Homo sapiens: one gene and its partners. The protein of the gene in region 1 interacts with the protein of each later gene in a biochemical or structural test. Each region holds a gene or a part of one and is shown in the gene's direction. Other genes may lie near its edges. The genes, in order: UBE2V1, TRIM25, BIRC3 and PELI1.

Evidence for each region.
Region 2: the proteins of UBE2V1 (region 1) and TRIM25 form a complex in vitro, tested with the Homo sapiens proteins (one study listed by BioGRID).
Region 3: the proteins of UBE2V1 (region 1) and BIRC3 form a complex in vitro, tested with the Homo sapiens proteins (2 studies listed by BioGRID).
Region 4: the proteins of UBE2V1 (region 1) and PELI1 form a complex in vitro, tested with the Homo sapiens proteins (3 studies listed by BioGRID).

Annotation. Positions count from the first base shown.
Region 1 is NC_000020.11:50,110,143-50,117,144, reverse strand, and holds the start of UBE2V1 (ubiquitin-conjugating enzyme E2 variant 1), read left to right. Parts: upstream 1-3,994; 5' UTR 3,995-4,016; coding exon 4,017-4,038; intron 4,039-5,582; exon of another isoform or gene 5,583-5,856; intron 5,857-7,002. UniProt on the Homo sapiens protein: Has no ubiquitin ligase activity on its own. The UBE2V1-UBE2N heterodimer catalyzes the synthesis of non-canonical poly-ubiquitin chains that are linked through Lys-63.
Region 2 is NC_000017.11:56,890,050-56,897,075, reverse strand, and holds part of TRIM25 (E3 ubiquitin/ISG15 ligase TRIM25), read left to right. Parts: intron 1-1,123; coding exon 1,124-1,150; intron 1,151-1,471; coding exon 1,472-1,555; intron 1,556-1,634; coding exon 1,635-1,733; intron 1,734-4,846; coding exon 4,847-5,376; 3' UTR 5,377-7,026.
Region 3 is NC_000011.10:102,320,475-102,327,500, forward strand, and holds part of BIRC3 (baculoviral IAP repeat-containing protein 3), read left to right. Parts: intron 1-1,362; 5' UTR 1,363-4,035; coding exon 4,036-4,888; intron 4,889-4,991; coding exon 4,992-5,091; intron 5,092-7,026. UniProt on the Homo sapiens protein: Multi-functional protein which regulates not only caspases and apoptosis, but also modulates inflammatory signaling and immunity, mitogenic kinase signaling and cell proliferation, as well as cell invasion and metastasis.
Region 4 is NC_000002.12:64,092,414-64,099,439, reverse strand, and holds the end of PELI1 (E3 ubiquitin-protein ligase pellino homolog 1), read left to right. Parts: intron 1-2,162; exon of another isoform or gene 2,163-2,378; intron 2,379-2,829; coding exon 2,830-3,027; intron 3,028-3,126; coding exon 3,127-3,315; intron 3,316-4,171; coding exon 4,172-4,738; 3' UTR 4,739-6,788; downstream 6,789-7,026. UniProt on the Homo sapiens protein: E3 ubiquitin ligase catalyzing the covalent attachment of ubiquitin moieties onto substrate proteins. Involved in the TLR and IL-1 signaling pathways via interaction with the complex containing IRAK kinases and TRAF6.

The DNA of each region.
Region 1 (7,002 bases):
TTAAGCAACAGGCACATTATCTCATGTCTTCAGATGTCTGCAGTTGGGCAGCCCTGCAATTCCTTCAGCAGCTCAGCCACATCACCCAGGATTCTAATTCTAACCATTACAACCTCATATTGTAGGAAGGAGGAAAGGGGACAAAAATAGGCTTTTTCTTCAGCTTTTTTGTTTGAGACAGTCTCGCTCTGTCGCTCAGACTGGAGTGCAATGGCACGATCTTGGCTCACTGCAACCTCTGCCTCCCAGGTTCAAGCGATTCTCGTGCCTCAGCCTCCCGGGTAGCTGGTATTACAGGCCTGAGCCACCAAGCTCGGCTAATTTTTGTATTTTCAGTAGAGACGGGGTTTTGCCATTGTGGCCAGGGTGGTCTCGAAATCTTGACCTCAGGTGATCCGCCCGCCTCGGCCTCCCAAAGTGTTGGGATTACAGGTGTGAACCAGGGCGCCCAACCTTCTCTTCAGCTTTTATGAGGGGAGGGAAAGTTTCCAAACACCCACCTTGCCATGTGGGGCCATGGCGACTGGAATGGCGGTAAACATGCCCAATACACCTTCTCTCTGGGTTCCCTGCTACCAATATTGCTGCTGCCCAATTGGGTGTCCTCGCCCTGTCTCCTCATGGCAGCACGATGCACTTTGTAAAAAGGCAAACCTGCCCACATTTAGCTCAAAACCTCCCAGGCTCCACCTCCCTCATCACGGGAGAGCCAGCGGGTGACACAGGGTAAAGAGAACTGGATTCCAAAACTGATTTTACTCCTTCCTTGTTGTGTGACCTTGGAAAAGCCATCTAACTCCTCTAAGTCTCAGTTTTCTCATCTCACAAATGGAAATGGTAACAGCTACTTTGCAAGGTTCATTGAGGATTAGGTAATAATAGCAGCTAATACTTATATTGCACTTAGTGCCAAGCCCTCTTCTAAATTCTCTAGTTCTATTAACCATTTTAATCTTCCCCAAAATCCGATAAAACAAGACTCTTATCCCATCAGCTGAGTTTATCAGCTCAAGCGCAGAGCGGTGATCAGGCGCAGGCGCCGGAAGGAATCCTGCTCTGGGGACCGGCTGTGACGTCCAGGAATGGGGCAGAAACTCTTCGAGGGAGCGTGTGCGCGGGACGTACTACAACTCCCATCAGGCACTGCGCCAACGCTAGACTACAACAACCAGCATGCCTCGGGCTGTCCCGCCTAACCTCTTCCTGCGATGAGCTCGGCACGGGAATTATTATTGTCAATTTTACTTGCAAGAAGTTTCCTACAAGAGCCAAGGAATCCATGCGAGTAAACATTTACGGGCACCATAGATAAAAGGCTTGTGTTTTAATCCTCATCCTCTCCACCTGTTAGCTCTGAGTCTCAGTTTTCTCATCTCTAAAAATGGGGATATTCACAGGAGTTGCTGCATCGAGTTGTGAGGATTAAAAGTTGGATGTAACGGCTTGGTAATTATGAGCTCTTCTAGTGTCCCTTCCTCTTCCCTGTGCCCAAGGGGTTTTAGGAAAGCATTTTATCTCCACAGCAATCCTATGAGGTTGATACTACTATCCTCATAGAAGGGGAAACTGATGCCAGGAGAGGTTCAAGCGTCTTACCTGAAGTCACAAAGCAAACTGAGTGATGAAGGAAGACTTGAACCTAGAAAATTTCACTGCAAAGGTGAGTCCACCTTAGGAACCCAAATGCTTCCACTTGCTACTGATGCTTTACAGTGACCCCAAGTCCAGGGCAAGTATTTTCTGTGCTCCCCAAAGCAAACTTGTATCACGTGATACACGAAAAGTCAAGTTGCTTCACCTGTAGCCAGTGCTGGCACTTTGAGAGCTAATTATAGCTGAATTTGATGTGGTTGGAGGAATCGAGGAAGGCTTCCCTGAGGGGATGGTGCTGGATCTGAGAACTGAAGAGTGGGAACAGCACAGGCAAAGCCCCTGAAGTGGGAGAGGGCATGTGTTCCAGGGGGCTTGCAAAGGGCCAGTGTCGCCGCAGAGGTACAGAAAGTCTCAGAGGCGCAGGCTGTGCCAAGGCTATGGTGAGGCAAGTGGGGTACCTAGGGTGCAGATTTTTTTTTTTTTTTTGAGACTGAATCTCTCTCTGTTGCCCAGGCTGGAATGCAATGGTGCAATCTCAGCTCACTGCAACCTCTGCCTCCCGGGTTCGCTCGATTTTCCTGCCTCAGCCTCCCGAGTAGCTGGGATTACAGGTGTGTGCTACCACGCCCCGCTAATTTTTGTATTTTTAGTAGAGACGAGGTTTCACCATGTTGACCAGGCTGGTCTGGAACTCCTGACCTCAGGTGATCTGCCCACCTCGGCCTCCCAAAGTGCTGGGATTACAGGTGTGAGCCACCATGCCCTGCCCTAGGGTGCAGATTTTAAGGAGTCACTCACCTGCAGCGCTGTGCAAGTGCGGAGTCAGGACCTGAGTGAAAGCCCCGTTAAATCTGACCACCCCATCCTCGTCCCTGCCCTGGGTGCAGAGCCTGGTGCACAGGGTGTCCAGGCATCCTGCTTTGCCCTGGAGAGCCCTGGTTTCCACTTGTCCTGGTGAGATTATAATAAGTCCCCTTTTAATCTGATGTGTGTCCTCATTAGGTGATAATTCTATGGTCGCTCAACTTGTAAAGTTTGTATTTTATCCAGAGGGAATGGGGAGCCACTGAAGGCTTTAGCTGGAGGGTGTTTTGAGCAGATGTTGGTCTATATGGAGAATGGGCCATAGGGGAGAGAATGGAAGCTGCTGGGGTCTTCCAAGTGGGAGATAAAGGCAGCTTGCCCTGAGTGGAGAAGTGAACGGAGTGGAGAGATGCAGAGTAGGCACTGCTATCAGACAAAGGTGATGAATTGGATGTGCTGGGTGAGGGCTTCCAGCTTCCTTGTCCCTCTATGTTTAGAGTCCTGGTCCTTCTGCCAGTATTTTGCTCTGTGACCTTAAGCCAGTCCCTTCACCTCTCTCAGCCTCAGTGTCTACATCCATATAAGGGCTTCTCAGACAATTTATAATAAAGGAGGAGTACCTTCTTGGGTTTATTTATTTGCAAAAATATTTCCCAAGGGCCTTTGCACAAGCTGTTCCCTCTACCTCCTCATTGTTACGGTCTCTGCTGAAATATGACCACCTTAGGAGGCCCTTCCTGACCATCCTCTGCTGCTCTTGTCTTGGTTTATCTCTACCCTATCAGAATTATAGTTTCCTGTTTATTTACTTGCTGTCTACGACTAGAATGTAAGTCCCTGAAAGCAGGGATTTGCTTCTTCAGAGATGTCTATCCATCCCCAGCGCCTAGCACAGTGTCTGGTACATAGTAGGTGCTTAATGTTTGTTTGTTTGGTTGAATGAATGAATGAACGAATGAATGAATGAATGAATGAATGAATTGGGTAGATGGTTAGCAAATGCTTTCCCTGCCACCTTAATGCCCCTAAATCATTTAGCTGCACCCACTCCAAGCCTTCTCTGGCCGGGGAGCATCAATCCTAGGAGCCAGATCATCTGACCTGGAGGGTGATGATTCAAAAAATTTGAACCTGGAGGTTAAAATTCTGCCTGTCTCTGCCACTTAACAGCTGAGTTTAGATAAATCGCTTGATCTCTCTCGGCTGCATTTTTCACATTAATTCTGACCTTGCGGAGATGTGGTGAGGATCTAGATAGGAACTAGACAGGAAAAAGCCCCAAGCGAATTCGGCGCTTTTGTTTGAAGCTATATTTTCTTTTTCTTTCACAATCGCGCCTTCCCAAGCCTAGTCACCCCTGCCCTTCTCACTAAGCACATCACAACCTCCCTCGCACCCGATGTGTGGGGACTTGCAGGTTGCTGGGCCCTCGAGCACGCAGATATTTCCTTTCTCTAAAAGGGAAGGAAAAGAGCCTTCCAGGCCACGGGTCGTGCAGGTCTCCGGGGCGGGCGTCAGCGGCGGCGTATGTGCGTGCGCGCGCGCCTGCGCATCAGGGCCGGGGGACGGGTAAGGGGGGGGTGAAGAAGGGGCCGGCCTTCAAGCAAGAGCGACGCAAGATGGCAGCCACCACGGGCTCGGGTGAGCGGGGGCGCCGGGCCCGGCCGGCCGAGGGGGCATGGGCTTGGGCCGGGGGCCGGGGACCCTCAAAGCCTCCTGCAGCGGAGCCAGGGTCCCCGCGCCGCCTCTGTCTGCTGGGCTCCGCGGCAGCCACCGGCGCGGCCTGACCGGGGGAGGAGGAGCAGGCGGTGGCCGGAAGCACGGGCGGGGGGCTGAGGGGCCTGTGGGCGGCGCGGCGAGGCCCTGAGGCTCCCCCGGGAGGCGTGAGGGCCCTCTGTGCTGTCTGGGGGAGCCGGAGTGGGCGAGGAGCGAGCTCCGAGGCACTCCTGAGGATACCGGGGCTGGCGACTCTTAAGGGGCGATCTAGAGGTCCCCTAGAGGAGGCGCCCCACAGCGGATGGAAGTCCCATACTGGGTGCCAGGGGTGCGGCTGAGAGGGGCCTTGGGATGTCTGGAGGGGACATCAGAGAAGCCCTTCAGGCTGGATGGAAGAAACGGGATCCTGAGGGGGTGACTTGAGAGGATCCCCTATCGGTTGAGGGAACGGCTCCGGCGTTAGTTTTAGAGATGGGGTTAGCTGAGGAAATAGCTATGTTGACTAGAAAGGAGGAGCCTTGGAGCAGCTGCTTTTGGGGAGAATGAAGGGGGTCTCCGCATGATAAGTGAGAGGAGGGAAAAGGATTCAGATGCCAGAGGGACCTAATAGCGGTGATAGTGAAATGACCCCATCATTACCAGTCTCCTGTTCGAGGATACAGATGGATTGCTTCAAGTTAGGTTTCAGGGGACAAGGTCCGAGTGGGGCAGTTGGTGGAAGCCTCTGATATTGGATGAGGGAGAACAGATGAATTGGGAGCCCCGAGGATGTCTCTTTGGGAGTGGGGATTCAACTGAGGGAAGCCCCTGAAATGAGGGAGTGGAAAAGGTCGGGTTCCGGAGATGTTTCCTGTAAAGGAGAAAAGTCTCCTCTTTTTGAATTGAGTGAGGGAAGCATATCCTAGAAGTGTCTCTTCTGTGGAGACGCTCACTCTCATCGACTCCTTTAATAATTGGGACAGATATGTGGGTTCAGCTCAGAAGTTCCCCACTGGCTGATGGGAGTAGGGAGGTGAATAGATGAAATGGGAACTCTTGGGTGAGGCTGCACCCTCAGGTGCCTGGCAGTGAAGTTGGCCAAGGAGGTTCTCTCAGATGGGGTGAAAATGGGTTACCTCTCTGATGGAGGAAGCAAACAGGGCCACAGTGTTCCCCACTGTGGGGCTGCAGGGACACCAGCCTGAGTACAGCAATCATTGGCATATTTAAGGCCACAGCAGCGGCAGTGTTGGGAAGGAATTGGTGATCCATGGGAAATAGGGTGAGGGGAATTCTTTATAAATGTTGCTACTCTGCGGTCTCAAGGAGCCATACTTGCCTGATGGTTGGGGTGGGAATAAAAGAAATTGAATGTGGGGGATCTGACTGAAGTGACCCACCACAAGCTGCTGCCTTTTGAGTTTAAAACAGTGGGGTCTTCTTGCAGAATAGCGGAGACCATGAATCCTTTTACTCGATTTTGGTTTCAGCTGGAACAGTGCTGAGTCAATTCATTTACCATGACGCTGCCCCAGGCACTCCCAGAAGAGAGATTCTGAGTCAGGCCAGACTGCTGGGTAAAACTTCTCACCAGAATAACACTCCTACCGGGTCGTAATAAACGAAGGGGCCCAGTGTGCTGGTGGTAGCCAGCAATAAGGTGCTGTTGCAGCTCAGCCCTGCTTGCAGTCACTCGGTTGGCTACCTACAATCTGGGTTAACAGCTGCCCGGTTCTAACTTCTCCAGACCCTGACAGTTAAAAAGTGAGTGCTTCATAAATGGCTATGGTGATCAGATAAAATGTCAGCTGCTGTCTAGTGGAATACAAGAGCACTTGGCATGGTTTAGATAACATAGGACAGGCTTTGAGGTGCCCTAAAATGGACTTCCCAAAATTCTTTTGTCTGTTTATTCAACAGATATTTACTGAGGGCCTATTATGTCCCATCGTGGATAGCAAACAAAATGGACATAGTCTGTATCCTTCGGGAGCTTCCATTCAAGTCAGGGAGAGAAGGCTGTTAAGGAGTAAATAAGACAATTTCAGATAGCAGTAAGTGCTATGGAGGAAATTGTGTGATGTGATAGTGTCTGGAGAGGTGGTCAGGAAAGTGACATTTCAGCTGAGTCAAATAATGGAAAGAGCTAACCCTACAGTGTCACAGGCAGGAGAGAGAGTGGGCTGTTAGTGCAAAGGCCCTGTGGTGGGACTCTGCTTGGCATGTTGAAATAACAGGATAAAAGGCCTTCATGTGCAAGCAAGGCTTGTTAAGGAGATGAGTTGGAGAGACATGGCTTTGGATTTGAGATGGTATGAGGGGAAGCCATCAAACAAGTGTCTGGTATGAAGTAGGCATTCAGTAAATATTTGTTGAATGAATGAATAAGAGTCTTAAAAAGAGGAGTATGATAAGATCTGACCTTCGTCCCTAGGCAGTGAAAAGAGTGCAGGGTGCTAAGAGTAAAGCAGACCTTACTTGGGGTAAACTAAAATGAGTGTACAGGCCTCTCTGCTTTCTAACCCTGAGAAGTCTTCCAGGTGTGGTCAGGGCCCAGAGGCCTTCCTTAGTCAGGTTTAGAGTGAGGCTCTTGATTAATCTGTGCCTCCGGTTGCCAGGAAACAGCTGTGAAGCCTTTGAGTTCCTGTAAGGGCTGAACTTAGTTTTTTATGGTCACTGCTTTCAGCATTTGGCTACACCACCTTCCCACTTCCTTTGGTTCTGCAATGTGTGATATCTACATATGTCTTAGAGGGTGGAACTGTGAAAAGCCCACCACAGATCCTCAGAATCCCCATGTTATGACGGGTGACTTCCTCCTGCCTTGGCCAGGATTGCAGCACATCAAATAGTGGCCCTTGGTTGCCAGGCCCTTCCTCTCACTCAGCAGCCCACGAGCTTCCCTGACAT
Region 2 (7,026 bases), on another chromosome or scaffold:
AGTGGTGCGAACAGAACTCATTGCAGCCTCGAACTCCTGGGCTCAAGTGATCCTCCTACCTTAGCCTCTTGAGGAGTTAGGACTGTAGGCATGTGCCACTAAGCCAGGCTAATTAAAACAATTTTTTTTTTTTTGTAGAGACAGGATATTGATATGTTGTCCAGGCTGATCTTGAACTCCTGGCCTCAAGCAATCCTCCTACCTCAGCCTCCCAAATTGCTGGGATTACAGGAGTAAGCTACAGTGCCTGACCAATAATTTGCATTTCTTAGGGGTTCTCTGGTGATGTCACTGCAGCTGGCTTGGGCACCAGACTTTGAGAACGACTATTTTAGCCAAACTCAGTTCCTGTAGGTAGACACTCCAGATATTTTTAAAAGACTTGGCAAGCATTTTTTTTTTTTTTTGAGACAGGGTCTCATTTTGTTGCTGAGGCTGGAGTGCAGTGGCAAGAACACAGCTCACTGCAGCCTCATCCTCCTGGGCTCAAGCAATTCTTCTGCCTCACCTCCCAAGTAGCTGGGACTACAGGTGTGTGCCACTAGGCCTGGCTAGTTTTTTCTTTTTTTTTTTTTTTGTAATTTTGTAGAGATGGGGTTTCCCCATGTTGCCCATGCTAGTTTCTAACGCTTGAGATCAAGTGGTTCCTGCACCTTGGCCTCCCAAATTGCTGGGATTCCAGGCATGAGCCACCATGCGCCCAGCCCTTGGCAAGCATTTTTTTTTTTCTGATTCCCTATTTGGTTTTTGTGTTTTTTCCTTTATGGAAATATAATTTACCTGCAGTAAATCTCTTTTTTCCCTGCAGTAAATCTTAAATGTGCAGTTAGATCTATTTTGACAAATGCATACATGTGTTACCATTGTTCAAATCAAGATAAAGAATTTCCCTTTCTCCAGAAAATTCCTTCATGCTCCTTATTAGTCAGTCCCCGCCCCCACGACCGCTCATGCTGGTTTCTATCACTATAGATTCATTTTGCCTGCTGACTCCTTCTGTTTTTCAAATTAAAACATCCTTTTATTTGTCTGGGTCAAATTCATGCACATGAATGTTATTATTTTGAAAATGTCATTGTGTTGTGCCTTAAAAGAAATTAAATCTGAAAACTTTCTTTTGCAGAAGAGGAAAAGAAATCCAAGAAACCTCGTAAGTTATGCATTTCTGCAACTGTTCGTTTCTTGAGACTGCCCGAGCACAGAACTAAATGCTGGTAGTGAGAGTCGACCTCTCTCATCAGGGTTCTGTGATGGGTTCTATATGATTCCATTCTGTAATGGCAGCAGGCCTGAGGCTGGAGGGGAGGACAAGCATAAGTGAGATGAATAAGGTGACTTTAGCCTTGTCTGTTTTCCCCTGTGTTGTCCTGCTGTTCAGGCGTGTGTTTGTAGAAGTGGCTCTTAATCAGTGTGGAAGGGAGTAGAGGCCATCCCGTTGCTCTGTATCATATTTCCCTTTCCTTACCCCCAGCCCCTGTCCCTGCCTTACCCAGCAAGCTTCCCACGTTTGGAGCCCCGGAACAGTTAGTGGATTTAAAACAAGCTGGCTTGGAGGGTAAGTTATCATGGGCAAGGAGCTTTGGGGTGTCCACTCTGAGTTTGTTCTGCAAATCACTCTCTGTTTCCTCTCCCAGCTGCAGCCAAAGCCACCAGCTCACATCCGAACTCAACATCTCTCAAGGCCAAGGTGCTGGAGACCTTCCTGGCCAAGTCCAGACCTGAGCTCCTGGAGTGTGAGTAGCTTCGGGGCTGGTGCGCGGTTCCACTGGTTCTGTCTCTCCTGCGCCGCTCTGTGCAGCTCTCTGTGAGGCCAGCTGGCCGGCTATATCAGCCACTCCCCTTCACTTGTCCTCTACTTTGTTGCTCCCTTATTTTCTCCCAGTCATCAGTGCCTTTCTTTACTTTTCCTAACTAGCTCAGATTTCACAATCGGTCCTTTGACTCTCCCTCTTGCCGTCTAGTCTGGCCCAATTGAGCTCACCTTTCTCTGTGGGTCGGCGCCTGCATGTCCTCTGCAGAGAAGGCAGGGCGATTGCGGTCACCGGCCTTCACCGGGCGTCCCGTTGCCGGCATGCCTGCCCTGCATCTCCTGTCTCCTCCCCACCACTCTCCAGAGCCACCATTCCCAAGACTTCCCACTGGCCATAGCTCCATCCTTCTCCCTGTCCCGCCCACCTTCTGCTTCACGAAAAAGACAGACACTGTAGAAGGGGCTCCCCCTGCTCTGTTATTGACATCGCATCTGCATCTACTGTGCCCCCTTCCTCGCCTCCTGGCCCCTTTCCCAAGACCCCCTGGCCCTGGGCTCTGGAGTCTGCTCCCCACACGCTCTCTGGAATCTTCTGCTCTCTCTTAGGCCTTTCCATTCCCATCTCTTCACCCTCAGCATCTCTACCTAGGCTTGCCTATCTGTAGCACGTTTACATCTCTCCAAATCACAAAAACAAACCTAGCAAAACTGTCTCAGCTGCAGCTCTGTTTCCTGCCTCCCTTTCACCCGAATGCTTGTTAAAAATACAAATTACTAGCTGGGTGCGGTGGCTCATGCCTGTAATCCCAGCACTTTGGGAGCCCGAGGCAGGTGGATCACCTGAGGTCAGGAGTTCAAGACCAGCCTGGCCAACATGGCAAAACCCCATCTCTACTAAAAATACAAAAAATTAGCCGGGCGTGGTGGCACATGCCTATAATCCCAGCTACTTGGGAGGCTGAGGCACGAGAATCACTTGAACTTGGGAGGTGGAGGTTGCAGTGAGCCGAGATTGTGCCACTGCACTCCAGTCTGGGCAACAGAGCGAGACTCTGTCTTAAAAAACAAACAAACAAACAAAAAACCCCAAAAACCAAATTCCTGGGCCCTGTTCTAGCCCTACAAGATCAGACTCAGGCAAGCACGGAAAGCTGTATGTTTAGCTCATTTCCTCCATGATCCTTTTGAGGACAGTTGGGGAAAAGCAGCTCTGCAGATTTTCTACATTGGTGGCTCTCAACTGTGGCTGCGTGTTGGAATCCTGGGGAGCTTTTTAAAATCCCCGATGCCCAGGCTGTCCCCCAGACTGGTTCATTCAGAATGTTGGTGTTTGGCTGCCCAGGGTTGCAATGTGGGGCCGAGGTGGGAGCCTGAAGTCTAATCCTCGTGCCACTGCATTCTGACCTCTGTCCTGCCCTTGACCCAGGCAGCTCTGAGGTCATCAGGGTACTCCGTGTCACAAAATCCAGGGACGCCTTTCAGCTTTTATTTAGCTTCACCTGTCAGTGGCATTCCTCCTCCTTCTGACACTCTCTCCCCTTGCCGCTTGAGCTGCTATACCCCCCTGGGTTTCCATCCACCCCTCCTTTGCAAGCTCGTCCAACCTGGAAGTGGGTGGAGTTCCGTTGTCAAGGCCAGGCCTAGGGCCCTCCCACTTTCCGTCTTCTTGTTTCTTCTGCACCCACGTGCAACACTCCAGGCAGCACCTGCCAGTGGTACCCACTTCCATGTGGAGGCCAAAGCCAATCACTGAAAAATATAGCCCTTCCTTTATCATAAGCAGCTGCAGCAGGCTTGGTGGGGATCTGTGGGTCCCTTGCTTTTTCAGGGCTGGCCTTCTTGTAGCCCTCCGCTGTCCCTGCCCCCCAAGAGAGGCCCAGACCAGCCCTGGGCTGCAGCTAACTCTTGCCCAAGCTGCTAGCGGCGGTGCTGAGCCACGTCTTTCAGGAGCTGCTGTGCACTCTGTGGCAGCCGCATAAACAGGGAAAGTAAAATTCTATCAACTTAGGGCCTTTTCCACCCCCAGCTTATTCATTTTGCCTTGGGGGAAACTCGGGCTCCAGTGAAAAGTGTCATGCCCTGAGCCACCTAGCAAATGAGTGCCTCGCTTGGCTCCCTGCTGCCCACCAGTTAAAGTCTAGCCTCCTAAGCCCTTCCCTTTCTAGCCCCAACATGTTTCCCTTCTCCTGCTGCATCTGTGTTCCCAGCCACCCAGCTTCCCCGATCCCAGCACATGCGAATCCCCTTGGCACTCCGTGGCTTCACTCTCACTGTTCCCTCTGTCTGGAACAGCTTTTCTCTCTCTGTTCTCCTCTGTCTAGTTCTCATCTTCTGTTACTTGGCTCCAATTCCAGCCTGCCAGTGAAATGTTCCCCAACTGTAGCATCAGTTGCCTTGTCTCTGTGTCCCTACAGTGTGTGCTTACCCTTTTGGCAGAGTGTGAGTCTCATGGTGTTGTTACTGATGGACTTGCCTTGCTTGTTGGAGTGTGAACTCCATGAGGCCCGGCACCTTGTCTCTCTGGTTCATGGTTGTGCATCTTGTGCCAGAATCTGGTGTCAGTCAGGTGCCTGGTAAATGGTTTTGGATGGATGAATGGACAGACATACGGATGACTGATAGATGATAGATGGCTGGCTGGCTGGACAGAATGGATGGATGAATGGATGGATAGATGAGCTGATGAATAATGGATGGGTGGATAGATGGGTGGATGGATAAATGGACAGATGGATAGATAAGTGGATAGATTAATGAATGAATGAATGGATAAATGGAAAGGCAGAAGGATGGATAGATAAGTGGATAGATGGATGAATGGAAGAATGGATAGATAGGTAGATAGATGGGTATATGGATACATGGGTAGATGGATAGATGGATGGATGGATACATGGATGGATTGATGGATACATGGATAGACAGATAGATGGATGAATAGACAGACAGATGGATAGATGAGTGGATGGATGGACCAATGGGTAGATGGGTGCATGGATGGATAAAACTAGTGAATAAATAGTACCACTTTGGCAAAGGTCTAAAAGAGCACTTTGGGCCCCTTGTAATTAATTCCTTGGGGTGATGTTTTCTCAGATTACATTAAAGTCATCCTGGACTACAACACCGCCCACAACAAAGTGGCTCTGTCAGAGTGCTATACAGTAGCTTCTGTGGCTGAGATGCCTCAGAACTACCGGCCGCATCCCCAGAGGTTCACATACTGCTCTCAGGTGCTGGGCCTGCACTGCTACAAGAAGGGGATCCACTACTGGGAGGTGGAGCTGCAGAAGAACAACTTCTGTGGGGTAGGCATCTGCTACGGAAGCATGAACCGGCAGGGCCCAGAAAGCAGGCTCGGCCGCAACAGCGCCTCCTGGTGCGTGGAGTGGTTCAACACCAAGATCTCTGCCTGGCACAATAACGTGGAGAAAACCCTGCCCTCCACCAAGGCCACGCGGGTGGGCGTGCTTCTCAACTGTGACCACGGCTTTGTCATCTTCTTCGCTGTTGCCGACAAGGTCCACCTGATGTATAAGTTCAGGGTGGACTTTACTGAGGCTTTGTACCCGGCTTTCTGGGTATTTTCTGCTGGTGCCACACTCTCCATCTGCTCCCCCAAGTAGGCAGGCTGTAGGCACTTGGGCTGACTGCCTGCAGAAGTCCCAAGACCCTAGTGAAAATACAGCAGGCAGAACTCTCCTTGGATAATTCCCCAAGAGGTCCCAAGGATTGGGAGCATGGGAGGGGAGCTGGCGGGAGGGTGGGAGGTGGGATTTAGCCAGGAAAGGGGTGAGAGTGATTGTGTTGTGGGCGAGGAGGCGTTTCCACCCCCTGGTGCCTATCAGGGCAGGGTGACCTACTCCCCATTGTTCTGGAAATCTCCAGGCTGCTGGGCAGCTGGGCAGAGCTCTGGGAAGTGAAGTCATGAGTGCCCGATTCCTCTTAGAGAAAATCCATAGCTACTGTAGGTTCTGTCTTGGGCCACTTGGATCTGAAGGCTGCCCCTTTGCTCTCTGGGGTAGCCTTCAGATCTTGGTGTTTTGAATTCTTACTATAGATGTTTTTAAAGTTCCAAAGTCATTGAGTTTCAATGTTACATAAACTCCATTACCCGCATGTTGGGGCTTGATCTCCTGGTTATTATCTGTGCTTGAGGAAACACCCACAGCAGTCTCTACCCAGAACAGTTTCCTAAAGAGGCATACCCTCTTCCTCCACTGGAAAATAGTGCGTTCCCTTCCTACCCTGCACACCCATCGCCCCCACATTGATGGTTTTCAAACAGCAAACTTTTCAGCTAAAGCTTCAAACCATGATTGGAATCAGCCTGTGTTGGATTTGTGATTCAGGGTCATGGTGACCCTGATCCAGTTTGGGTGGAAATCCTTCCTAAGTATCATAAGAAGCATCTTGGCAGAGATGCTTTGGTGGCAGCCATGAGCTTTGCTGGAGGCCTTGCTTCCCATAGCCTTGGCTGTGGGGCAAGGAACTCTGCCAGGCGAGGGGGATGCTGCCCTGGATCAACAGAAGCCTGGTGGGTTTGCTCGTGTTAGAGTGTCCTGCCTTCTTACTGACAACTCTTCTCGGTGATAGCCTCTCTTCCCTGGATTGTGACATATGGAATGACAGTGCAGGTACCACCGAGGCTAGCACAGTCAAGCCTCCAGCTAAGCTGGATCCCTGAAGCCTGCTATCATGCAGACAGGCTATGCGGCTGCCTCGGACCATGCTAGGCCACTTGCTGGGGTGTCAACCTACCACCAAAGGGGTCTTTTAGCAAACCTCATGGGGAACAGGAACATTCCTGTTCATCCCTGGCCACAGGCTGCAGACCCAGCACTGGCCCTTGCGTGAGTCAGAGCCTGGGGCTGGCCCTAGCCCCTTCTACTGACTTCCTCATTTAAGCCAATTATATAAGCTCACATTGATCAGGGAGGGAGGGAAAGAGCTAAAGAGGGTCACACAAGTGGCTATTTTCCCTGCAGTGTTTCTGTGTGGTGAAAATAACCCAGTCCACTAAGGGGCGGGAGTGAATGGATGGCTGGATTTTCCCCAAGCTCCTTATAGCCTAATGTTGTCAGGATGTGAGTATGAGGAATTTAGCCTCTTATAGTGAAATGAGTCCAACTCTGGGCTTTGCTTAGAGGAGAGCTCCTGTCAGGCTTCCTATAATATGAAAAGAAGTCACCATTGGGGAACTAGAGACCCCAGACCTTTTCATATGGATATTTGAGAATGTAATGCATCTCAGGCCTCGTGCTGGAACTCTAGGG
Region 3 (7,026 bases), on another chromosome or scaffold:
GGCTGGTCTCAAACACCTGGGCTCAAGCAATCCATCTACCTCAGCCTCCCAAAGTGCTGGGATTACAGGAGTGAGCCATGGCATGAGGCCTTGTGGGGTGTCTCTTTTAAATGAAAGCATACTCTGTTTACGTATTTGATATGAAGGAATATCCTTCCTTTCCACAAAGACAAAAATTATCCTATTTTTCTCAAAACATATGTCCTTTTTCTCTACTTTTCATTTTTGTTACTTTTGATGGACACATGTGTTACATTGATTTCACTTTCTCATAATTCTGCTGTAAGAAAAACAATAGTGCCAGTTCAATGACAAATAGCAACAGTCTGTTATTGCTAGACTGTTACTGTTAGTGGAGACTACCAGAACAGTCAGTCCCAGTGTCAGGGAATCAAAGAGAACATGTTCCCTCTCTAAAGGGCACAGCTGCTGCTCAGCTTTAGCTGATTGCTGCCCTGCAGGACTATAGGCCCAGTGTTGCTAGATCTTTTGATGTTTCAAGAGAAGCTTGGAATCTAGAATGTGATGGGAAGTCTCTTACATTTAAACATGTTGGCAATTAATGGTAAGATTTAAAAATACTGTGGTCCAAGAAAAAAATGGATTTGGAAACTGGATTAAATTCAAATGAGGCATGCAGATTAATCTACAGCATGGTACAATGTGAATTTTCTGGTTTCTTTAATTGCACTGTAATTAGGTAAGATGTTAGCTTTGGGGAAGCTAAGTGCAGAGTATGCAGAAACTATTATTTTTGTAAGCTTTCTCTAAGTATAAATAAATTTCAAAATAAAAATAAAAACTTAGTAAAGAACTATAATGCAATTCTATGTAAGCCAAACATAATATGTCTTCCAGTTTGAAACCTCTGGGTTTTATTTTATTTTATTTTATTTTTGAGACAGAGTCTTGCTGTGTCACCCAGGCTGGAGTGTAGTGGCACTATTTCGGCCCACTGCAACCTCCACCTCCCAGGCTCACATGATTCTCCTGCCTCAGCCTCCGGAGTAGCTGGGATTACAGGCGCGTACCACCACACCCAGCTAATTTTTGTATTTTTAGTAGAGATGGGGTTTCACCATTTTGGCCAGGCTGGTTTTGAACTCCTGACCTCAAGTGATCCACTTGTCTTGGCCTCCCAAAATGCTGGGATTACAGGCGTGAGCCACTGCACCAGGCAGAGGCCTCTGTTTTTTATCTCTTTTTGGCCTCTACAGTGCCTAGTAAAGCACCTGATACATGGTAAACGATCAGTAATTACTAGTACTCTATTTTGGAGAAAATGATTTTTTAAAAAGTCATTGTGTTCCATCCATGAGTCGTTTGAGTTTTAAAACTGTCTTTTTGTTTGTTTTTGAACAGGTTTACAAAGGAGGAAAACGACTTCTTCTAGATTTTTTTTTCAGTTTCTTCTATAAATCAAAACATCTCAAAATGGAGACCTAAAATCCTTAAAGGGACTTAGTCTAATCTCGGGAGGTAGTTTTGTGCATGGGTAAACAAATTAAGTATTAACTGGTGTTTTACTATCCAAAGAATGCTAATTTTATAAACATGATCGAGTTATATAAGGTATACCATAATGAGTTTGATTTTGAATTTGATTTGTGGAAATAAAGGAAAAGTGATTCTAGCTGGGGCATATTGTTAAAGCATTTTTTTCAGAGTTGGCCAGGCAGTCTCCTACTGGCACATTCTCCCATTATGTAGAATAGAAATAGTACCTGTGTTTGGGAAAGATTTTAAAATGAGTGACAGTTATTTGGAACAAAGAGCTAATAATCAATCCACTGCAAATTAAAGAAACATGCAGATGAAAGTTTTGACACATTAAAATACTTCTACAGTGACAAAGAAAAATCAAGAACAAAGCTTTTTGATATGTGCAACAAATTTAGAGGAAGTAAAAAGATAAATGTGATGATTGGTCAAGAAATTATCCAGTTATTTACAAGGCCACTGATATTTTAAACGTCCAAAAGTTTGTTTAAATGGGCTGTTACCGCTGAGAATGATGAGGATGAGAATGATGGTTGAAGGTTACATTTTAGGAAATGAAGAAACTTAGAAAATTAATATAAAGACAGTGATGAATACAAAGAAGATTTTTATAACAATGTGTAAAATTTTTGGCCAGGGAAAGGAATATTGAAGTTAGATACAATTACTTACCTTTGAGGGAAATAATTGTTGGTAATGAGATGTGATGTTTCTCCTGCCACCTGGAAACAAAGCATTGAAGTCTGCAGTTGAAAAGCCCAACGTCTGTGAGATCCAGGAAACCATGCTTGCAAACCACTGGTAAAAAAAAAAAAAAAAAAAAAAAAAAGCCACAGTGACTTGCTTATTGGTCATTGCTAGTATTATCGACTCAGAACCTCTTTACTAATGGCTAGTAAATCATAATTGAGAAATTCTGAATTTTGACAAGGTCTCTGCTGTTGAAATGGTAAATTTATTATTTTTTTTGTCATGATAAATTCTGGTTCAAGGTATGCTATCCATGAAATAATTTCTGACCAAAACTAAATTGATGCAATTTGATTATCCATCTTAGCCTACAGATGGCATCTGGTAACTTTTGACTGTTTTAAAAAATAAATCCACTATCAGAGTAGATTTGATGTTGGCTTCAGAAACATTTAGAAAAACAAAAGTTCAAAAATGTTTTCAGGAGGTGATAAGTTGAATAACTCTACAATGTTAGTTCTTTGAGGGGGACAAAAAATTTAAAATCTTTGAAAGGTCTTATTTTACAGCCATATCTAAATTATCTTAAGAAAATTTTTAACAAAGGGAATGAAATATATATCATGATTCTGTTTTTCCAAAAGTAACCTGAATATAGCAATGAAGTTCAGTTTTGTTATTGGTAGTTTGGGCAGAGTCTCTTTTTGCAGCACCTGTTGTCTACCATAATTACAGAGGACATTTCCATGTTCTAGCCAAGTATACTATTAGAATAAAAAAACTTAACATTGAGTTGCTTCAACAGCATGAAACTGAGTCCAAAAGACCAAATGAACAAACACATTAATCTCTGATTATTTATTTTAAATAGAATATTTAATTGTGTAAGATCTAATAGTATCATTATACTTAAGCAATCATATTCCTGATGATCTATGGGAAATAACTATTATTTAATTAATATTGAAACCAGGTTTTAAGATGTGTTAGCCAGTCCTGTTACTAGTAAATCTCTTTATTTGGAGAGAAATTTTAGATTGTTTTGTTCTCCTTATTAGAAGGATTGTAGAAAGAAAAAAATGACTAATTGGAGAAAAATTGGGGATATATCATATTTCACTGAATTCAAAATGTCTTCAGTTGTAAATCTTACCATTATTTTACGTACCTCTAAGAAATAAAAGTGCTTCTAATTAAAATATGATGTCATTAATTATGAAATACTTCTTGATAACAGAAGTTTTAAAATAGCCATCTTAGAATCAGTGAAATATGGTAATGTATTATTTTCCTCCTTTGAGTTAGGTCTTGTGCTTTTTTTTCCTGGCCACTAAATTTCACAATTTCCAAAAAGCAAAATAAACATATTCTGAATATTTTTGCTGTGAAACACTTGACAGCAGAGCTTTCCACCATGAAAAGAAGCTTCATGAGTCACACATTACATCTTTGGGTTGATTGAATGCCACTGAAACATTCTAGTAGCCTGGAGAAGTTGACCTACCTGTGGAGATGCCTGCCATTAAATGGCATCCTGATGGCTTAATACACATCACTCTTCTGTGAAGGGTTTTAATTTTCAACACAGCTTACTCTGTAGCATCATGTTTACATTGTATGTATAAAGATTATACAAAGGTGCAATTGTGTATTTCTTCCTTAAAATGTATCAGTATAGGATTTAGAATCTCCATGTTGAAACTCTAAATGCATAGAAATAAAAATAATAAAAAATTTTTCATTTTGGCTTTTCAGCCTAGTATTAAAACTGATAAAAGCAAAGCCATGCACAAAACTACCTCCCTAGAGAAAGGCTAGTCCCTTTTCTTCCCCATTCATTTCATTATGAACATAGTAGAAAACAGCATATTCTTATCAAATTTGATGAAAAGCGCCAACACGTTTGAACTGAAATACGACTTGTCATGTGAACTGTACCGAATGTCTACGTATTCCACTTTTCCTGCTGGGGTTCCTGTCTCAGAAAGGAGTCTTGCTCGTGCTGGTTTCTATTACACTGGTGTGAATGACAAGGTCAAATGCTTCTGTTGTGGCCTGATGCTGGATAACTGGAAAAGAGGAGACAGTCCTACTGAAAAGCATAAAAAGTTGTATCCTAGCTGCAGATTCGTTCAGAGTCTAAATTCCGTTAACAACTTGGAAGCTACCTCTCAGCCTACTTTTCCTTCTTCAGTAACAAATTCCACACACTCATTACTTCCGGGTACAGAAAACAGTGGATATTTCCGTGGCTCTTATTCAAACTCTCCATCAAATCCTGTAAACTCCAGAGCAAATCAAGATTTTTCTGCCTTGATGAGAAGTTCCTACCACTGTGCAATGAATAACGAAAATGCCAGATTACTTACTTTTCAGACATGGCCATTGACTTTTCTGTCGCCAACAGATCTGGCAAAAGCAGGCTTTTACTACATAGGACCTGGAGACAGAGTGGCTTGCTTTGCCTGTGGTGGAAAATTGAGCAATTGGGAACCGAAGGATAATGCTATGTCAGAACACCTGAGACATTTTCCCAAATGCCCATTTATAGAAAATCAGCTTCAAGACACTTCAAGATACACAGTTTCTAATCTGAGCATGCAGACACATGCAGCCCGCTTTAAAACATTCTTTAACTGGCCCTCTAGTGTTCTAGTTAATCCTGAGCAGCTTGCAAGTGCGGGTTTTTATTATGTGGGTAAGAAACTGAATCTGCTAATTAAAAAAAATATATTTCATTTTATACATTTTAGTGGGCAAATTATGTGTATTCATAAGTTTTGGTCTAAAATTAATTTTAGGTAACAGTGATGATGTCAAATGCTTTTGCTGTGATGGTGGACTCAGGTGTTGGGAATCTGGAGATGATCCATGGGTTCAACATGCCAAGTGGTTTCCAAGGTAATTGTTTTGAAATTCTCTTTGCAAATTCTTGTGATTATCATGAGATTGCTTATATGTGTTCACCTGAAATCAGTTGTTACTTTACTCTGTTCCAAATATATATTTGTGAATAAGTTTAGGATGGATTACTTAGTAAAATACTTACTTAAAAAGTTTCGATGGACTTAAGACAACGAAGAAATAGATTTGGGGATTTTTGTTTAATTTTTAAAGAAATATATATATATTTAAATAATACATGCTCATTATAAAAACAAAGTCACACATTGTAGAAAAGCACAGAGAAGGAAAATTAAAATGTCCAGAAATCTTACCGCCTAAGGATGAGCATGGTTACCACTTTAGTGAACATCCCTCCAGACATATAGAAATAAATGTATATGATACATATACATATAGAAATAAATACATATACATATAGAAATAAATGTACACCATTTTACATAAGTTAAATATTATATCTAGTTTTGAAGTTTTTTCAGTCAACATTTGTCTTGGATATATTTCCATTCATTCGGTATTCAATAATAATTGATCACCTATTGGCAGGCATTGTTCTGGGTGCATAAAATCAGTTGAACAAAACAAAGACCCCTGGTCTCCTAAGTTTTTATTATAGCACGAGAGAACAGACAACTAATAAAAACTTGAATAAGTTCTATAGCATGTTGGAAAATAAGTACAATCAATAAAAAGAACAAAGAGGAGTTTAGAAATGCCAGGCAGGTTACAATATTAAATTGGGTGGTCAGGGTAAGTATAGACTCATCTCATCTGTTTTAGTCGCCACGCAGCATTTTAATGTGATGTGTTACCCTTTTGATTGTTTAACTGGCCACCTAGTGTTCTAGTTAATCCTGATTAGCTTGCAAGTGTGGGTTTTTATCACGTGGGTAAGAAACTTAATGTACTAACTAAAATATCAGCTTCAAAAAGTTTTTTACACTCTCCTTTTTCATCTAAATCATGTGGCCTACAATTACATTTTTTCATGGTCAAAACTTTTGCTATTATTCAACCCGTTTCCCATTTGCCCTGAGAATACTGCACTGGCAACAAGCTGCACTGTTTTTTTTCTAAATGGGAAATGGGTTAATATCGATTAATAAATGTGGCATCTTAACTTATTTTGATTACTTTTTTTCCTCTTTTCTTTTGAGATGGAGCCTGGCTCTGTTGCCCAGATTGGAGTGCGATGGTGTGATGTCAGCTCACTGCAACCTCCGCCTCTTGGGTTCAGGCAATTCTCATGCCTCGAGCCTCGCTAGTAGCTGGGATTACAGGTGCACGCTAGCATGCCCAGCTAATTTTTGTATTTTTGTAGAGACAGGGTTTCACCATGTTGTCCAGGCTGGTCTCAAACTCCTGACCTCAGGACTTTGAGGTGCTTGCCCGGCCAACATCAGTGTGTTTTAAGAATCTTAGAAGAGTTGAAGAGAGTAGCTAAGAGCTCTGAGGAGAGATGGTCTTACTTGACCTCAGTAGACTGAGGGGCTCCTGACCCTTGTCCACTTGAGCCTTGGTAGATAACTAGTAATCACCTTCCTCTTGCTTATATCAACCTGCCTTTCACTGCAATATCTCTGACCATTCCCTATATGCTAAATGAATAGTAAATTGATTATATGTACATTTATACTCATTTGAAATATTTATACTTCACAATATATTAAGAGTAAATTGATTATATGTATGTTTATACTCACTTGAAATAGCCAGTCTACAAATGGCTGGATTAGTCCTGCCCAAATTAAGATAAACCTTTAGAACTTTTCAAAATTAGCTGAAGTGGTCGGGTGCAGTGGCTCATGCCTGTAATCGCAGCACTTTGGGAGGCTGAGGCAGGAGGATCACTTGAGGTCAGGAGTTCGAGACCAGTATGGCAACATGGTAAAGCCCCATCTCCACTAAAAATGCAAAAATTAGCCGGCC
Region 4 (7,026 bases), on another chromosome or scaffold:
GGAAGATTAATGTTTAGATCCAAGAAAAACCGAACACAAAGCTTTAGGATGATTTTTCACATTTTGTTTCACTGACAAGCAGTGAAAATGAATGAGCTTAGCTTTTTTTTAAAATCAAGATGCTACTAGGCCTGTAGTCTCAGTTACTCAGGGGGCTGAGGTGGGAGGATAGCTTGAGGCCAGCCTGGGCAACATAGTGAGACTTCGTCTCTTTAATAAAATATAGATAAATATATATGTGTGTGTGTGTGTGTGTGTGTGTGTGTGTGTGTGTATCTCCAAGATATTTGGTCACAGGCTAGAATTTTAGCTTCAGAAAGTACGTTATATTTATTTGTTTACCGCTTATCTTTTGTAGATGAGGTTAACTGAAATCTTGTGAGTTAAAGATGATAGAGTTACTTGGGGGCAAAACTGAAATTAAACCAGGCATCCTGAATTCTGAAACAATGTCTTCACCATCTAATGAAGGCCCTTGAATAAGTTTTAACAGTTTGGGTTTTGTCTTTTTCATAAAGTAGAGAATTTTCCCCAGTATCATAAACTGATTATGCCCTTTCTACAGGTATTATACCTTTGGAAAATCCAAACATTTCTGCATCAAAAAGACTGTGATGTATCAGAAACTACCTTGATAAACTAGCCAGTCTTTGAGGAATTGTACTGGAAACATTCTAGGATTGTCTACCCTGTAAACTGAACAAGAACATTTATTGTTCAAGTCATCAGATATTCCAACTCCAACTCTATGCCTTGTTTGTCACTATGAAGTACATAAGGGAGACATTACAAGCTGATTACATGCCTAGGTGCTGTACTGACCCTGTAAATCTTAAGCACATTGATTGTGTTGAAGAAGGATGGAGAAAAGACTTTACACTGGTGCCTTTTCATGTAGATCTTTTTATCAGGTTAAGTAGGATTTTTGCCAGCAACCGGTAGAAAAGCATTCTAGCAAAAGAGATGGCAAAGAAGCAAAGAAGTAGTACACAGTGTGGTGAAAGATTGACGAATAAGCTGTTGTAGCTTGTATACACAAATAGCAGGAAATTCGGCTGGATTGGTAGATGGGAGGCAAATCTTGAGTCAGTTTCTAACTATTATCAGAAATAATAAACTACAAATTTTGGATAAGCTATAAGGAACCATTGAGTTTTCTCATGAGGGTAAGGGAGAGTAACAAAAGAGCTGTATTTTTAATGCTAATAATAGCAGGGGAAGAATTATTAACAATCATATTTTGGCATCTGATCACATTCATGGTGGTTTTTTTCTCTTTATAGATACTTAAGTTTCTTCCTTCTCATTGTCATTACAAATATTGCTTCAGTGTCTTAAATATTCTCTTCCAAGACCCAGTTGAAATGTCAGCTCTCTGGAACAGTCTCTTTCCAAATAAGTGCTACTTCTGTTGATTCTGAATATTAGTTCAATCCTTGGCCTATATCTTTTAGCTTTTAAAGAGCCTTTTTATTTGGGGGAATATTTTTTGTTTCAAAGATCTGAGGCCATTTAAGGTATCTTTATTTTTAAGAATAAAGAAAAGGAATATCCAATCTTATATTTGTTAACTAGTTTCCCTCTAAAACTATCCAATCTAAATAAAAAGACTTTATACTTGACAGTTGGACAAAAACACTAAAGAGGTTTATCTGAAAGTGTGCCGATATGAGGAACTTGAGGCTAAAATATGTAAAGAATGACTTTTAAGAGTCTTTATCTTTGTAGAGGGTCAGTATTTTTTCTCAGTACCCACATTCTTCAATTTTATGGTACTACTTTATAACAAATACATTCATGAACTGATAATTTCCAAATGTTTGCTTTAAAGCCCCGTGACACTTGTCACTTTTGTCATCTCCCCATTGATTTCCTTTTTTCTTTCAACTTTCAAAATGAAATTAACTTATTTACTAGCTAGTACCTCTGAAGATATTTTTAAATCTCTGACACCTCACTCATCCAGAACTCTTATCTGGGAACCTTGTCTCTCTGAAATATCCCTAAGAACCAGGAAGAGTATATATATAAAATAAATGCCACAAAGTTGATGTAGTGAAATTCCTTTTCTATTCTCCCTAGAGGATCCCTTAGGCTCTCACCAGAACCTTTTGAAATACTTTTCTCTGAAATAGGTTATTTGATTTCTCAACCCATAACAGAGTAAGAGTAGCCAGTTAAAAGAGGGGCTTGTTGCTGGAAACAAGCATGACCAAAAACAAGGAGTGATAGCTGACAACCTGACAGAAAAGAAACAAGAAAATATATGAAGTATACATAAGACCTCAAAGCAAGGCTGTGTAAGCCCTTGACATAAGGACCAGCAGCCTTGTATACCTCTTGTAGCACCTGAAGACATCACTGCATTTCAGCTTAACGTAAGTGGTATTTATAGTGTAATGTTCTGCAGTCATCCTAAAAGATTTACTTATATATGTTCACTATATTCTGTTAAATAAGGTAGAATATCTCTTTAAATATCTCTAAAGAGAAAAAAACTACATGATACACATATTTCCATCCAAAAGGGTTAAAATTAAAATCTGCAGCCATCTAGAAATCTCAGCCGTTCCTGAATTCTTCATTCCCTAAGGGTTTCGTATATTATTGTAAGTTCTCATTTAATTCCATGCTCTAAGTGATTACTTCATCAGAGACAGTCTGACTGATTAGTTTTCAAGAGTATAGATGCCCCCAGCGTTAAGTATGGTAAACTTCAACTTTAGAAATTTCAGAGACCTAATGTTCTCTCCTTATTGTGCCCTTCTTGAATGGATTTTCCACTGTGCTCTTTGAATGGGTTTATAGGTATTTTTTTTTTTCCCTCAGATTGGCCGGTCGACTGAAAGCCCCATTGATTTTGTAGTAACTGACACGGTTCCTGGAAGTCAAAGTAATTCTGATACACAGTCAGTACAAAGCACTATATCAAGATTTGCCTGCAGAATCATATGTGAACGGAATCCTCCCTTTACAGCACGGATTTATGCTGCAGGATTTGACTCATCAAAAAACATCTTTCTTGGGGTAAAAAGCTTTTTTTCTAAATGATGCTTTCTTTTATACTAGCTTTCATTCCAAGTTACAAGTTACAAGTTGGAAGCTCACTGCTATTATTTCTACTAGGAGAAGGCTGCCAAATGGAAGACATCAGATGGACAGATGGATGGCTTGACCACTAATGGTGTTCTTGTGATGCATCCACGCAATGGGTTCACAGAAGACTCCAAGCCTGGAATATGGAGAGAAATATCGGTGTGTGGAAATGTATTTAGCCTACGTGAAACCAGATCGGCTCAGCAGAGAGGAAAAATGGTAAATACTGAATGGTATTTTCTTAATTAGCTACAATAAACACATAGGATGAGTAGAACTGAATGCATTACATACATTCCAGAAAACTCTTAAATCTATTGCCAACACAGAATACTAAGTCTATCAAACACTGACTACCAAATTCTATACTAGAGGACAGTCTCTTTAATATTTCGTTTAGTAGCCGGGCGCGGTGGCTCACACCTGTAATCCCAGCACTTTGGAAGGCCGAGGCAGATGGATCACCTGAGATCAGGAGTTCGAGACCAGCCTGAGCCACATGGAGAAACCCTGTCTCTACTAAAAATACAAAATAAGCCAGGCATGGTGGCGCATGCCTGTAATCCCAGCTACTCGGGAGGCTGAGGCAGGAGAATAGCTTGAACCTGGCAGGCAGAGGTTGCGGTGAGCCAAGATTGCGCCATTGCACTCCAGCCTGGGCAACAAGAGCATTTTAGTAAACTCTGGAAGTTCATTCTTCTGTCATATCATGTTAATATATTTTAAAACCTAAGCTTTCTTAAACTAAACAGCACTCCCTCTGATCTTTTCTGTTGCCATCTGTATATCTTAAACCATATTTACCTCATTAAAAATATTAGACTTATTGATTAGCCAGATGTTTTAATCATAAGTTGTCTTTACCATAAGGCTAAAAAGAAATATGTTAATGTTTGATATTTTATCCTTGATTTTCAAACTTAACATTTTTCATAACTACTGTCAGTTTCTTGAATATTTAGTGAAAATCCTAGGAAACCTCATTTCTTGAGTAAGGAGTACTTAAAACCAAAACACTTATGTAAAAATCCAAAACAGAGTGGTGAATATGTTTTTCAACTCTTGTCTCCTCTAGGTGGAAATTGAAACCAATCAGTTACAAGATGGCTCGTTAATTGACCTCTGTGGTGCAACATTGTTATGGCGTACTGCAGAAGGCCTTTCCCACACTCCTACCGTGAAGCATTTAGAAGCTTTAAGACAGGAAATCAATGCAGCACGACCTCAGTGCCCTGTAGGGTTCAACACACTAGCATTTCCTAGTATGAAGAGGAAAGACGTTGTAGATGAAAAACAACCATGGGTATATCTAAACTGCGGCCATGTACATGGCTATCATAACTGGGGAAACAAAGAAGAACGTGATGGAAAAGATCGTGAATGTCCTATGTGTAGGTCTGTTGGTCCCTATGTTCCTCTGTGGCTTGGATGTGAAGCTGGATTTTATGTGGACGCCGGCCCTCCAACCCATGCGTTTAGCCCGTGTGGGCATGTGTGTTCAGAAAAGACAACTGCCTATTGGTCCCAGATCCCACTTCCTCATGGTACTCATACTTTTCATGCAGCCTGTCCCTTTTGTGCACATCAGTTGGCTGGTGAACAAGGCTACATCAGACTTATTTTTCAAGGACCTCTAGACTAACAGACCATTGTCTTGCAGGACTACATTATAAATTTATAAGCTAAGTGAGTTGGGTTTTCGAACCTGTTGTCCACGTCACAGTTTTTCTGCTCTGGTCATTTGCATTAAGATGAAGAATTTTTTAAAACATTTATAATAAATAGTAGCAATTTCTGAGCAAAAATCTGGGAAACTCAAGCAAAGGAATTTCTGAAAGTATCAGTCTTCTGAATTCTGAGTTTTGAAAATATATTTTGAGGAGAAAAAGACATAGTCTAATTTGATGCCTTCCTTTTAGTGTTTTTGAATCACCTATCCTCAGTGCTGAAATTGTTTTGTATAACTGAGGGTACTGTTGGTTCAAACTATGTTAGTTTACAGTTTGTTGCAAACATTGTAAAATACAGCGACATGTATATTAACTTTTTTCTATTTATCTTTATTATAGAAAATACCTTAGAATGTTCTTGATAGAGTAGCATGGTAACGATGGTGTCACACCCTTGGTGTGAATGGTAGCTTAGTGAGCAACCTAGCTCAAGGATTTGCAAAGTTAGGAAGAAGGACGAGAGAGCCTCTCTCCCCACCCCAATCTAAATATGGAATTTGGTAAATTAGAATACTTTGTAATTTGTAAGACCAAATTCATACTAATTACCCGCGTGAAAGGTGTTTGTTTTTAACAACATTGAAGATAATCAGGAAAGATTTTTTCTTAATGTTTCTCTCGAGCGTAGTACTATAACAAAAACTTAATGCTAAGAAACATTTTATATGCTCCTTTGGATATGCAATTTAATCTAGATTATCTATTTTTCTCCCATGATAACTAATCTGTTTTTAGTATCAGCAGCATTTGGCAAGTTTATTTTTTGGATATAAACTGTGGTTCATCTGTTCACTGTTTCTAGAAAAAAATCATTGCCATAAGAAAAAGTATAAATTAGCAAGAAAGGAGAGTGACTTGATTTGCTTTTGGAAAAAGAAATGCTTAATTAATTATTCTGTATTTGGCCTTATTCGGGCATTAGGAAATCTAGAGATCTAAAGGGTTGAATGACAATAGTGCCCCCGTTTTTAGCAGACCAGCCTTAACTCTGGGTTTGAATCCTAAGGAGATTGCCACAGTGAGACTTAAGGAAATGTTTGGTTGGCAGATGAGCACCAATGACTGCAGCGTGGAGTGACGCACTGCATGGTCTGTTTATTCTCTAATTCCAATATGTCTTTTGCTTCCAGAAGCAAGAAAAGTTTCTTCTCTCCCCTCCTTCCCACCCTTTTTTCAAAGGCACCACAAGTATAGACAGTTGCACTACATCAAATCTTTTTTTGACACTTGTAGAAACCAGTACACTTTTAGATTAGACAGTATCTTCTTTTAATATTTTGATTTGTTTTCCTTTAGTTTGAAAAGTTGTATAATACTTAACTGACTGTAGCAAAGTTTTATATGTGGTAGCATACCTTTAATTTATCCTATTACAAAACTGTTCTGAATTTTCTTTTGGTTTTTAAAAAACAAAACTTGTTGCTTAGAAGCCATGAATTATTTTATTTTACTTCAACTGTCGAAACTTCCTTGTTTTAAAAAATGATCATTTGGGTTCACTCAGGAAATGCATGTCAGGAAACTTGTATTATAAGTTTATTAGTTGTGATGTATCAGTAACTGCTGTTACCCCTTTTTCAAAGAAATGTAATTGATTTTGAAGTTTTCTAGATTGTCACATGCTTTGTGACTAATGCAAGAAAGCAAGTCCTGTGTTGTATTTGTTCTAGTCATTTTTATTCAGGCTATATATTGTAGCTTAATTTTTATTTGCAATTAATTTATTTAAACTAAGTAAATACTTTTCAAAATACATAATTGAATTCGTCTCTGTGAGTTCATTTTTGCATAATCGAGAATGAGAAACCAGAAGTGAAAACTGTGAACAACTCTATTCCACACTCCAAAAATACTCATTTGAAATAGATGAAGAGTTTGCATTTAATGTAACACTTTAAAGTATCTGGTTCTTTTTTAAAAGCATCTCTTACTAATAAAGGAACTTTGTTAGTGGTTGAATAATTGAGGCCTTTTCTAAGTTAAGCCTTGCTAGGGAGTTGGCACCTGTAAGTTGCATGTTAGACTATTTAAATAGTGGCTTCGTAACCATAAAAGTTGCACGTCCTTCCCAAAGTTGCCTGCATTTTCTTCTAACAGGTAAAAACAATCTCTTCTAACAGGGAAAAACCTGGCTCATTTTCTATCAAATTCAAGTTTTAAAAATTCAGGCAATTTAAATGATCAGTTGGGTGTTTGCTGT